Linked DNA regions of Homo sapiens. The protein of the gene in region 1 interacts with the protein of each later gene in a biochemical or structural test. Each region holds a gene or a part of one and is shown on either strand. Other genes may lie near its edges. The genes, in order: DHX15 and RBM5.

Region 1 (5,867 bases):
GAGTACAGTATTTAGTCTTCATATGAAAATAACTGATTAAAAAACATTTTATGGGCCACATAAAACACCTCAATTTTCATTCCAAAATGAATGTAGACAAGTTTTCAACTTGTCTACTGCCTGTCATAGAAAATGGAAGGTCAAATGTACATTTTAACACACTATACAAATTATTTTGTATACTGCATAAAACTTCCATCACTAAGAATTTTGTTAAACTGAGATCTAAAATATGCTTTCCTCTTACCTAATACTAATAAACGTGTTTGAGAAGCTAGAAGTATAATAAAAACATCTGACAAAAATGTAGTTAATAAATTATGAGCCTTATGAAAGGAACTCTAAGAAAGACAAGTAGAGAGCTCTCCTTTCATTATTCTCTCTTTTGGGGTCCAGTTTCAAATGATCACTACACACATTTTACCCCTTTTAGATCGATCACATCCTGATTAACCTAACAAAGCGCTAAGCCATGCTCTTAAAAATACTGCTTTAACAGCTACTTTTCCTAAGGAGTACTCCTGGTAGAAAGATACTAAATATGTAGTAACAGTATAATTATAATAATAAAAAAGCTCCACACTTGAAAAACAACTATACTTAGAGACTAGAACAAAGATACCAAAGGGCTTTGGCCAAAATTAGTATAAATAGACTTTATTGAAGTCAGTGCCTCTGTACTGAGACAGAAGATTGTGTCTACATAAGCACAAGTTGTAACATTTCACAACTTCTAAAAGGAATGTCAACAATTACAACGATCATGCATACCATGGTCGATAATCACATTTTAGAAGCATTTTCAACCATTTCTAAAGAAATGCTTATAACATTGTTATATATAGAACTACTTTCAATAAACTGCAAAACATTGATCGACTTTTCCAGTATGAGCTACAGTGTCAACACAAAAGGGAGGCATAAATGTTTAATTTATGAAATCAGAATGGAATATTTACTGTAAAGAAAAATTAAAAAGCTTTCAAATAAAGGCCATTATCGAACCAACGTGAAGAGCACAACTCGAACTTTTGAGTTCATTCATCTTTTAAAGCTGTCCTCTCAATAACTTCAGTTCTAAGCACTGAATTCAGTACTGTGAATATTCCTTGGATTGAAGTTTGGCAATGATGCGGTCCAACTGTCTCTTTGCTTCACACTGTGGGAAATTGCTCATGTCATAATATTGAGGGGCAATTTTCACCAACCTGTTTAGAAGTGGGCAGAAAAATTTCCAAATTAACATTTAATTGAAGTACTGGAGTTGTTAATAGGATAGGCATTATTCATTAATATACTGATGAACCAAGGCAAATCTATGAATTCAAGTCTCAGAAAAATACAAATAACTAATCCTTACAAATAGCACTTTTAGAAATGTGTTAAGTATTTTATTTAGTAAGATGTGAATTTTCTGATGTTGGACTTACCATAAACTTAATAACAAACCCCTCAAGATACATTAATGTAAAGATAACAGATAAAGTCACTGATTTCTTTACTCTGGCACACTATTAATTTGCCACTCCAAGGATATAGTAATATATAACAGGTTCTGTGTAGGAAACATCGTGGTATTCAAATGATTGGATCTTTTCATTTTCAATGTTTTAATAACTGTAACTCTATACCCCCAAAATACACTTGACTGAAATCTTTTATAAAGTTTAGCTATATAATTTTTTTCTCAACAAAGCGTTTAAGATAAAATGGTAATGTCCTACACAATTTAAGTGTCAAAAGTCCCAAATCCGTATAAGAAAGCAGCTGCACAATATAAAGCGGTGACAGCACCTAGAATATGTGCCTTCAGTCCCACTACTCTTGGCTGACATTTCCTGTCATAGGTTATAGAATAGATTCTGGCATAAATAAAACAAAAAACCATGAAGGTGAGGGTTATTTTGCTTAAAATAAAACAATCCGTTCTTACTCTACATTTTGTAGAAGCTAGTATGTTAAAACACAAAGAGCTATCATTTTTATGCCTGCACAGTTCCTAAAAACCAATATATAAATAATAAATAGTTGAGGGCTAATTGTAATGGGACAAAAAAAATGTTAAAAAACAAAACAAAACAAAAAAAAACAGATTTCTGCAAGCAAGAAACAGTACTGACTTGAGAATCACAACAGCAAGAGAATGGCTCCAAAGAAACTCTAAAAATTAAAAAAATTAAAAAAAAACCCTTTTTTAAAAGTATGTCTGAGAGACAGGGTCTCACTGTCACCCAGGCTGGAGTACAGTGGCATGATCATAGCTCACTGCAACCTCAAACTCCTGGGCTCAAGCAATCCTCCTGCCCAGCTTCCCCAGTAGCTGGGACTATAGACGTGCAGCACCACCATGCCCAGCTAATTTTTGTACACACCTATATATCTTTTAGTAGAGATGGATTCTGGCTATATTGCACAGGCTGGTCTTGAACCCCTGGCTTCAAGTGATCCTCCCATCCTGGCCTCCCAGAGTCCTGGGATTACAGGTGTGAGCCACCATGCCCAGCCCCTGAAGAAACTTTTCATGCTATTCAAATGTAACTTCACATTTGGCTTCAAATCCTGCCCATAAATATCAACAATCCCACTGTCCACTTAACAAAGGAAGGGTGTGAAAGATTAATCACACCATCCAGTCAATTCCCTCATACCTACACACTGAAATATAAATTCTCAATGAGTGAATGCAAGGCCATGACTCTAGCAACAGTCAGGTTCCATTTTGAGCAAAGTACTAACAAAAAACTGTTAGAACAAAAGGTGTACTTACCATTCTGGCTTGATATCTGTACATGTCCGGATGTAATTCTTTGTTGTTAGAACAAACTCATTATAAAGCACCCATTCAGGTTTGTGGTCAAGAACAGTAGAGGGATGCAACTGAACCACCTGGTTATCTTTCACAGTTAAGTAATGCCCTGTTCGTTCTAAATGTGCCACCTGAAACCAAAACCCAGTATATTATTAATACAATGCTTCTGACTTGCTAGTTGTAAAGCTACCTACATAATTAGGAAGAGGCAGGCCTCCCTTTTACTTTTCATTCTATGGCTATACTTATTTATCACTGTCTGATAAAAGCAGAGATAAGCAAACTGCTGCCTGTGGGCCAAATCCAACTCATAGCCTCTATTTGTAAGGTCTGTGAATCCAAAATGGTTTATTTATCTTTAATTAGAAAGAAAAAATATCATACAAAAAACATTCCGTGAAGCATGAGTAGCATGTAAAATTCAAACTTCAGTATCCATAAGGAAAGTTTTATTAGAACACAGGCATGCCCATTTGTCTATACCTATTATGCTCCAAGAGCAGGCAGTGTTAGGTAGTTTTGACAAGGACTTCATGGGTCCACAGAGCCCAACATTTACTATCTGATCTTTCCTGCCTGAGACCATCTAGAGCAGGCTCTTCAGCACTGGGCGCCAACTATGAGCAGACAATTACCAGAACATTCATGTCTAAGGTAGAAAACTAAAGCCAGGTGCAGTAATCCCAGCACTTTGGGAGGCTGAGACAGGCAGATCACCTGAGGTCAGGAGTTCGAGACCAGCCTGGCCAACACGGTGAAACCTCATCTCTACTAAAAGTACAAAAATTAGACAAGCGTGGTGGCGGGTGTCTGTATCCCAGCTACTCAGGAGGCTGAGGCAGGAGAATTGCCTGAACCCAGGAGGCGGAGGTTGCAGTGAGCTGAGATCAAGTCACTGCACTCCAGCCTGGGCGACAGACCGAGAGGCTCCATTTCAAAAAAGAAAATAAAGAAATAGAATAAAAAATAAGGTAGAAAACTAAAGAGGGCAAAGAGGAAAAGAAAAAGGTAACCTACAAAGACAGGAAAATAAAAATGGGAAAAAAAAAAGAGCTTGCACGTGCTTCCCTCTCATTTCTTTTTTTGGTAACACCTTGACTGGTGATACTCATCAAAATGGACAGTTCTCCCTTTCCAATTCTAATATTCTGTGCTTAAAGAATGAGCATGAATAATAGAAAAGAAACTCAATTTCATTCGAAATATTTACTAAACACCTATTAGGTGTCAGGTACTATAATGCATGCTGTTTCTAATAAATTTTTTGTTTGTTTTTAAAAAGAGATAGGGTTTTCCTATGTTGCCTGGGCTGGCTTCAACGCTCCTTGCTCTCCACTCAACTTCTCTAGTAGCTAGGACTACAAGCACACTCTGTGGTGCCTAGCTGTTTGTAACAAATTTTAATCTACATAATTAAGAAGTATAATGCTTGAATATAGTTTCATCAATTTTTTTTTTTTTTTTGAGACGGAGTCTCGCTCTGTCGCCCAGGCTGGAGTGCAGTGGCGCTATCTCGGCTCACTGCAAGCTCTGCCTCCCAGGTTTACGCCGTTCTCCTGCCTCAGCCTCCCGAGTAGCTGGGACTACAGGCACCCGCCACCGCGCCCGGCTAATTTTTTGTATTTTTAGTAGAGACGGGGTTTCACCATGTTAGCCAGGATGGTCTCGATCTCTTGACCTCGTGATCCACCCGCCTCGGCCTCCCAAAGTGCTGGGATTACAGGCGTGAGCCACAGCGCCCGGCCAGTTTTTTTCTGAAATATAAAAAGCAAATTTAAGAACATGTCAACCCAGGCCTGGTGGCTCACGTCTGTAATCTCAGCACTTTGGGAGGTCGAGGTAGGAGGATCATTTGAAGCCAGAAGTTCAAGATCAGCCTGGGCAACGTGGCGAGGCCCTCTCTCTACACACACAAAAAGGCAAAAATTAGCTAGGCATAGTGGTGCGTGCCTGTAGTCCCAGGAACTCAGGAGTCTGAGGTGGGAGGATCACCAGAGCCCAGGGAGGTAAAAGCTGCAGTGAGCCGTGATTGCACCACTGCACTCCAGCCTGGGAGTGAGACATTGCCTCCCTCACCCCATCCCCTCCCCCTAAAAAAGAACAGAACATGTCAAAGAGAAGCCAGTACAACATATCAAATATTAAGAATATAGTTAAGAGTTTCAAGAAAGAATGCTCATACCTATCATTCACCAAACTCTAATAAGCCTATTATATAATAAGATGCCACAATAAACACTGTGTTACTTAGATTCAAATACAGACATCTCACCAATCTCCTTTGATTTTTGATTCTGAAACTGAGTGTCCTCAGGCTCATATTCTAGCTACTGAGCCCATCTGGCCTTAAGGGTAAGCCACATCGTGCTTAAAAGACACAGCCAAAGAGAGAATGAACAAACAGAAAAGAGATAGAAGAGACTTATCCCAAATCAGGTGATTTGTTTTCAATTTTATCACCACAAAATTTTCTTGCATTTTTCTCAAAGTTTCTCTTATTTTATAAACACCTTAAAATAACTGTTCACAGTATTTACTTGACAAGTTTTACTTCTGTTCTTATAGCCGTTAACACAGCATACTTAAACTAAATAAAACCTTTTAAATTATGTTTCATCTTTATTGCTACTCAACAGACGTTTTTGGCTTTTGCAGTACGCAAGGGTCTTGGTCATAATTACCAATGATCACTCTGTAGAGGACTGTAAATGAAATCCACGTATTTGAATATTTGAATTTGGAGGTGCTTAGTTTTTAGATAAAGACTAAAGCCAACTGTATGTACTTTTGGATCCGCTCAATTGCTTCCTTTTAGTACTCTGTTATGACAATGTATTTCCAATTAAGCCCTAGATTCAGAGAAACTTTAATGCACTGATCAATATTCACATTCCTGAAGAAACAGGTGCCTAATCACATCTGAAAGTAGCCAAAGTTTCCATTTTGTATAACAAAGGCTCTATTAATAAAATAATTCTAAAAACGATTCCTGTATAACTAGACTACCTTAGCCATTTAGTACATTAATTTGTTACTCATTAAATACTTAAAATTTCTT
Region 2 (6,890 bases), on another chromosome or scaffold:
GCTAGAGTGCAATGGCGCGACCTCCGGCTCACTGCAAACTCCGCCTCCTGGGTTCAAGCAATTCTCCTGCCTCAGCCTCCCGAGCAGCTGGGATTACAGGCCAACCACACCCAGCTAATTTTGTATTTTTAGTAGAGACGGGTTTCTCCATGTTGGTCAGGGTGGTCTTGAACTCCCAACGCCAGGTGATCCGCCTGCCTCGGCCTCCCAAAGTGCTGGGATTACAGGCGTGAGCCACCACGCCCGGCTAAAACATGTTAAACTCTTGAATTTAAAAATCCGAACATGTCAAGACCAGCCTGGGCAACAGAGTGAGGCCCCATCTCTGTAAAAAATTAAAAAATTAGCCTGCATGGTGGTATGTGCTTGTAGTCCCAGCTACTTGGAACACTAAAGTGGGAGAATCGCGTGAGCCCGGGAGGTCGAGGCTGCAGGCTCCCGAGTAGCTGGGATTACAGGTGCACACCACCACGTCTGGCTAATTTTTTTGTATTTTTGGTAGAGACAGGGTTTCACCATGTTGGCCAGACTGGTCTCAAACTCCTGACCTCAGGCAATCCACCTGCCTCGGCCTCCCAAAGTGTTGGGATTACAGGTGTGAGCCACCACGCCTGGCCAACCCTGCCTCAAAATCAATCAATCAATCAATCAGAACGTGGTGATGGGGGCAAGAAATAAACTGATTTCATCACCAGGCTTGACTGGCTCAGACATGCTTGACCCACCTACCCACCCAAGAATAAAGAGACACAGGACACCCATTTCTCAAGGTATTTCTTTTGTAAAGGAGCCAGATTTGGCAACTAGACTGAAAATCTTCCAAAATTCTGTACAAATGTGTAATATACAAATATACACAAGGCTTTTGCCAAGAAAAGACATCACAACAAATGACAGAGGTGGCTTTGGTGTCACATACCACCTACAGCATCTCAAACCCCTAGGAATGTGAGGGGCTGATGGACCACAACATAGGCTACACATGTAAACACGCTACATTACACTATGTACACTGGAGTATAAACAATCCACTGTCCTCTCCGGTCTGTTCACAAGCCCTCTGGCGGGAAGGAAGGCCATTCACCAGGCAACCCACATAAGGGGAACTTCTTTAAGGTGGGAGGGAGAACCCTGCAGAATGAAGTGGTTCACCCTAAGATCTATTAACAGCACAAGGCATGCCCTTAAAGAGACAGGCGGTAACAGCGAATTCGGGAGATGGACCACTTCTTGTGCTCCTTGTCATCTCTCTCTCTCTCTCTCTCTCACTCCATCTCAGTGAACCGGGCAAACATGGCTTTCCGGACAGCATCTTTGTAGGAATCGGCGCCCGACAAACCATATGCGCTGCCTTTGGCTCCTAGGCCAGCTCCCTTTAGCCGAACTTGAGCCTGGGAAAGCACAGAGACTGTCAGCTGGGAGGTAGGGTATGGGCTGCTCCACCTCTCACCATGCCCACTCCTTACCCAGCAGGACCACCCACCAGGAGACAGAAGAGAGAAAACTGTATATGAAGACAAGGATTTCTCCAGAAGAGACCAGGAGCAAGTATAAGGACTGGAGGAATAAAATGGGCTACGGAACACAGGCAGATGAAGCAAATCACCCACCCCTCAATGCCTGCTCAGCAAGCATCCACGCCTAGGAAAGGGCCCCAAAGTATTCCTCTGAAGGTCTGGGAAAGGTATGGTAATTACAGGCACACATTATACAGGATAGCTCAATGTCAGCAGAACTCACATAAACAGGATGAACATGGTCTACAAGAGTCTGACCTAAGCTGTGCTCCCAGGACAGAGCAGGGGCAATTACGGGTGGAGCTCCTGCCTAGAAGGCCAGTGGGTAGGGGCCTCCGATCCTGGGATATGATGCCTCAATGTGGGCTCTGATCAATTTAAAGATTTCTTATCATGGGTGAAAACCCTACTAAATTTTTTTTTTTTTTGAGACAGAGTCGCTGTTGCCCAGGCTGGAGTGCAGTGGCGTGATCTCGGCTCACTGCAACCTCCTCCTGCCAGGTTCTAGCAATTCTCCTGCCTCAGCTTCCTGACTAGCTGGGATTACAGGCACACGCTGCCACGTCCAGTTAATATTTTGTATTTTAGTAGAGACGGGGTTTCACCGTGTTGCCCAGGCTGGTCTCAAACTTCTGGGCTCAGGCAATCCACCCTCCTCGGCCTCCCAAAGTGCTGGGATTACAGGTGTGAGCTCATGCCTGTAATCTGCCCCTTCATGCTAAGGTAAAGCTGCTCCTGGCTCCCAGGCTCTATGAGTGCTCTGATCTCATCTCTGGAACCGGCCTGTAAGCCTGGCAAACATCAAGACCTGACCCCACTGCTTACCTCAATGGGAGCCGTAATGCCTTGACACTTTCGTCCCAAGCCAGAGCCTTCCCGCCAGCCCATGGCCTGCAGCATCTTGTTGCCAATGTTACTGTGGTCAATGCCATCTTTGGTGGGTTGCTCGTAATTCCTGCCAGTGGCAAACACACAGTTACTTAAAACAGCCAGGGCCCCAGCTTACGAACTGGAAAATGTGCACATCACATACACAGTGCCGGCATCAAACTGCTTCTTGCGCTTGGGCTCTGGAGGTTCTGGAATGCCGTACTTCTCCCGTCTTTCTGCAGCTCGGTCTCGGTATTTCATCTACATGGGAGAAAAAACACTGCTGGAAATGTTCACAGACTTCAACCTGTAACCGTCTAATGCACCTATTCAAAACTATCCCCTCAAGTATTTTTAAATCTGAAGAATGCTTTTTTTAGACTGCTCTGAAATACCAAATTCCCTTGTTCCCATCATCATACCTAGTCATATCTGAAATGTTAAATTTGTAAATATGAATTGTGTGGAACCAGGGGCAGAACTATGTCTCCAACAAGCAGTTTTATTTAATTAGCCACCCTCTGTCAAGCTACTCAACCAGCCCACTGGGCAGTGGGTACAGCTTGCGAAGAGGAAGGCAGAGTTGCCCGTTCTCCTCAGCATTTGGACAGGCATACCTCCAACATTTGGAAAGGCATACCTCCAACATCAAGGAGGCTTCCAGAGACCTGTTCAGCAGTCGCTGGGGAGGTGGAACCATAGATAGTAGGGCAGGAAGGGTGTGGGGAGAAGAAAAGCAAAAGCCTTAACTACAAACACTTCAGAAATATCTCAGGTGGGAGATTTCAAACCCACTTGCTCATTTCTAAACCACAGGCCTCTATTTGCATTTAAATCCCTGCCCACCTGGCCGCCAACCTGCCCCAACCACCAGCACTAACTGCTTGCCCATTATTGTGTCACAGGCTTCTCTCTTGCCTTTGTTCCCAGATCTGCTTGCCATGCCCTGCCCACCCTTCCTTTCATATCACCTGCAATAACCTCACGTCCTGCTGTCCCTTGGGATTAATTTGAAGCGCACTTCTTTGCCCATGAAGGCTTCCCTGGCCAGGCCAAACTAGACCACTCTCTCCATAACAAAATCCAGCGTATTTAAGCAGCAAGCTCTGGCATTGCTGTGAGAGAGTCTCGGCAGTGTGCTTCTGCCTTGTGCACCCTTATGATGAAGGGACAATGTGAGGCTCACAAGGCACACAGAGGCTGGGTCTAGGCTACATGAACTACAATGGTCAGATGACAAGGGTATGACAAATCCTCCTACCCTGCCCCTGGGATCTGGAACTAAATGCTACAAATAAAAGCTAAAGGCAATTATCCCAATATCCTCTTCCTTGTGGCACAGTTTCCCATTCACCTCTCTCTCCCTTAGCTCCAAGGCTTCCAGCTCCTGCTCGCTCAGCCTGGATCGTCGATAGATGTCCATGTTTTGCTACACAAAAGATTTGAAAGACACAGTAAGGACTCAGACCATCTTAATTTGAAATGTCCTAACATTAGTAACATCTACTGTACTTTAAGAGCCAAAGCCCAAACAATACACAATCACATAAAAACTATAGTTTGATGTGTGTGGAGCTGCCAGACTCCGTCCACTGTCATCGGGAACAGCTTTCTGTAAGGCCATCATTAGATGGCAGGTATTTTTGGAACCGTCAGGACTGTTAGGGCACTCAAATTGTCTCACTGCCTCCCCTCGCCCCCTCAGATCAGCTCAGAAGCATGGCCACCTTGTGAAGGTCTGAGAGTTGCTGGTGCCTGACTAGGGCATCTTTGTTCGGGAACTGGCGCCGGCAGAGCAGACAGGCCATCTTCTTCCAGTCAGCTAGCTTCTCTTCCTCACTCTCAAGTCTCTCCACCAGCTCCTCCTCATTGTCACTGTCACCACTGTAAGCAGCAACCAGACCCCTCTGGAGACAAAAGGAGGACAGGTCACTGGAAATGTACAATAGGAAGATGGCGGTGGCTATGTACCTGGATAAAGTAATGCCTCATCCGAAATGTTAACAAATCCCCATTACTGCATGTCACACTTTAGTAATGAATCACATTTTGTCAACTGCGTGGAGCAGTCAGGTCCTTGAGTGCTAGGCCTGACAGCCTCCTGGTACCAACCTTCTTGGAGCCTAAGAAATGGATTCCTGGGTGACTACCTTTTTCTATTTCTTTGGAGAAGGAGTCTCGCTCTGTTGCCCAGGCTGGAGTGCAGTGGCGTAATCTCAGCTCACTGCAACCTCCACCTCCCAGGTTCAAGTGATTCAAGTGTCTCAGCCTCCCAAGTAGCTGGGATTACAGGCGCTTGTCACCACCCCTGGCTAATCTTTTGCATTTTTAGTAGAGATGGGGTTTCACCACATTGGTCAGGCTGATCTCGAACTCCTGACCTCAAATGATCCGCCTGCCTTGGCCTCCCAAAGTGCTGGGATTACAGGTGTGAGCCACTGTGCCAAGACTGTTTTTGTTTTTTTTTTTTTTAAATGAGACAGGGTCTTGCTCACTGCCCAGGCTGGAGTGCAATGGTATGATCCCCAAAAAGTGCAGTGGCTCACTGCAGCCTTGATCTCCTGGGCTCAAGCAATTCTCTTACCTTAGCATCCCAAGTAGCTAGGAGTACAGATGCAAGCCACCACACCCAACTAATTTGTTTCTAATTTTCAGTAGAGACGAAGTCTTGCAATGTTGCCTAGACTGAGTGACTATTTTCAAACCACTGACCACAAATAAAAATCCCAAATACAACATATCAGAATAATGGCCCACCCAGACCAGTATCTATCTAGTAAAACAAGCTTTTTCTTGTCTTAATTTTCTCTTTCCAGACCATTAAAACTCTCCACTCACAGATGCAATGAAACTTAATTAACTGAGCTTAGGAATTGAAGCTTCTTTCATCACTCCATCTCATCTGCTCTCACAGAAAACAAAGCCCCGACATGGAATCTATGTGCAGAAACTGCTCCAATACCCATCAACAGTGATCACATTCAGTTTTAAGTAGGAATCACATTAGCCAAGATGCAGTTGAGCCTTAAAGTGAGACACAAACCACAGATAGGGTCTTTAAAACACTGGTGGTACTCCCTTACTTTGAGGGGATTCTCCTCATCTCCATTTCGCACCAATTCTGGGATGAGCTGCTGCCTTTCAGCTAAGGCTCCCTGGGAAACAGAGGACAAGCCATGAGACTCAAGTTTTAGGTAAGTTCCCATCATGACATACTGGCCATTCCTGCTATTACCTTCTTCTCAAAGAGAGCAAAGCCAGCGTCTGCTGCAGCAGATTCTCTCCTTTCTTCTTCCCTCAAGGAATTGACAGGCTGAAAGCTATTTTTAAAGTTTTCTTTCTGCTTATTCAAACTCTTAGCCCAGCGTTCCATGTCTTTGGCAATCTAATGTCAAACAACAAACACCAACAAAAAAATATTTAATCCCCTGTGCCATGAGAATGAGCCATTAAGGATCTTATCTCAACTATATGCCCTGTAACAAACCCCTTTTACTCTTACTTCCACCTACAAATATTTCCATTAGATGTTATCACATATAACCAAAGTCATTCATAAATACTGCTTGAAAAGCTTTGAGATTTCCAGGGCTTTTTTCCCTAAGTACACAGGCTGACAGTCAAGATATGGTAACAATAACAAATTGCAAAATGCTCTAAGAACTTAGTATGAATAAAATGTGAAGCCCAATTTTTAAGAATCCAAATAATACTGACATAAATGCTACAACCCCAAAACTAAGAGTTCAGCCCAATACCTCAATGAAAGAAATATGGGTCATGTTCTAACCTGCTGGGCTGTTTTGCTCTTGGGTTTCTCCTTCTTCTCTTTCCCCTCTTTTGCAGGAGGCAGGCCCGACTGCTGGTGGGAGCTAGACTCTGCAGCTGGCACGTAGGTCTCTTTTTCCCCATCCCAGTAAAGGTACTGCTGGGTCAAGGAATTATAGTAGTACTAGAAAACAACAAACAAAAAACAATTAATGCAGACTTTCTGCTATGTCAGTCGATTACATATTTTGTCAAAAAAAAGATAAAGTATGTTGTGGACTAGTGATATTTCCTGCCCAGAAAAGACCCTGGGCACACCTTGGTATAAGTAAAGGTGATGAACCACCTAGCAAAGAGGTGTGACACTGCTAGAGTAAAAATAGAATATGATTTCTTTAAAAAGTTTAGTTCCCAGCCGGGAGCAGTGGCTCATGCCCGTAATCCTAGCACTTTGGGAGGTGGTGGTGGGCAGATCACCCAAGGTCAGGAGTTCAAGACCAGCCTGGCCAACATGGTGATAACTCATCTCTACTAAAAATACAAAAATTAGCTGGGCATGATGGCACACCTGTAATCCCAGCTACTCAGGAGGCTGAGGCAAGAGAACTGCTTGAACCTGGGAGATGGAGGAGGTGGCAGTGAGCCAAGATCATGCCACTGCACTCCAGTCTGGGCAACAGAGTAAGACTCCATCTCAAAAAAAATGATAATAAAAATTTAAAAAGTCTAGTTCCC

The links.
Region 2: the proteins of DHX15 (region 1) and RBM5 form a complex in vitro, tested with the Homo sapiens proteins (one study listed by IntAct).

The regions. Positions count from the first base shown.
Region 1 is NC_000004.12:24,526,834-24,532,700, forward strand, and holds the end of DHX15 (ATP-dependent RNA helicase DHX15), read right to left. Parts: intron 2,938-5,867; coding exon 2,768-2,937; intron 1,209-2,767; coding exon 1,091-1,208; 3' UTR 642-1,090; downstream 1-641.
Region 2 is NC_000003.12:50,112,832-50,119,721, reverse strand, and holds the end of RBM5 (RNA-binding protein 5), read right to left. Parts: intron 6,340-6,890; coding exon 6,178-6,339; intron 5,773-6,177; coding exon 5,623-5,772; intron 5,543-5,622; coding exon 5,471-5,542; intron 4,295-5,470; coding exon 4,115-4,294; intron 3,817-4,114; coding exon 3,742-3,816; intron 3,701-3,741; exon of another isoform or gene 2,649-3,700; coding exon 2,551-2,648; exon of another isoform or gene 2,473-2,550; coding exon 2,343-2,472; exon of another isoform or gene 1,474-2,342; intron 1,392-1,473; coding exon 1,266-1,391; 3' UTR 701-1,265; downstream 1-700. UniProt on the Homo sapiens protein: Component of the spliceosome A complex. Binds to ssRNA containing the consensus sequence 5'-AGGUAA-3'. Regulates alternative splicing of a number of mRNAs.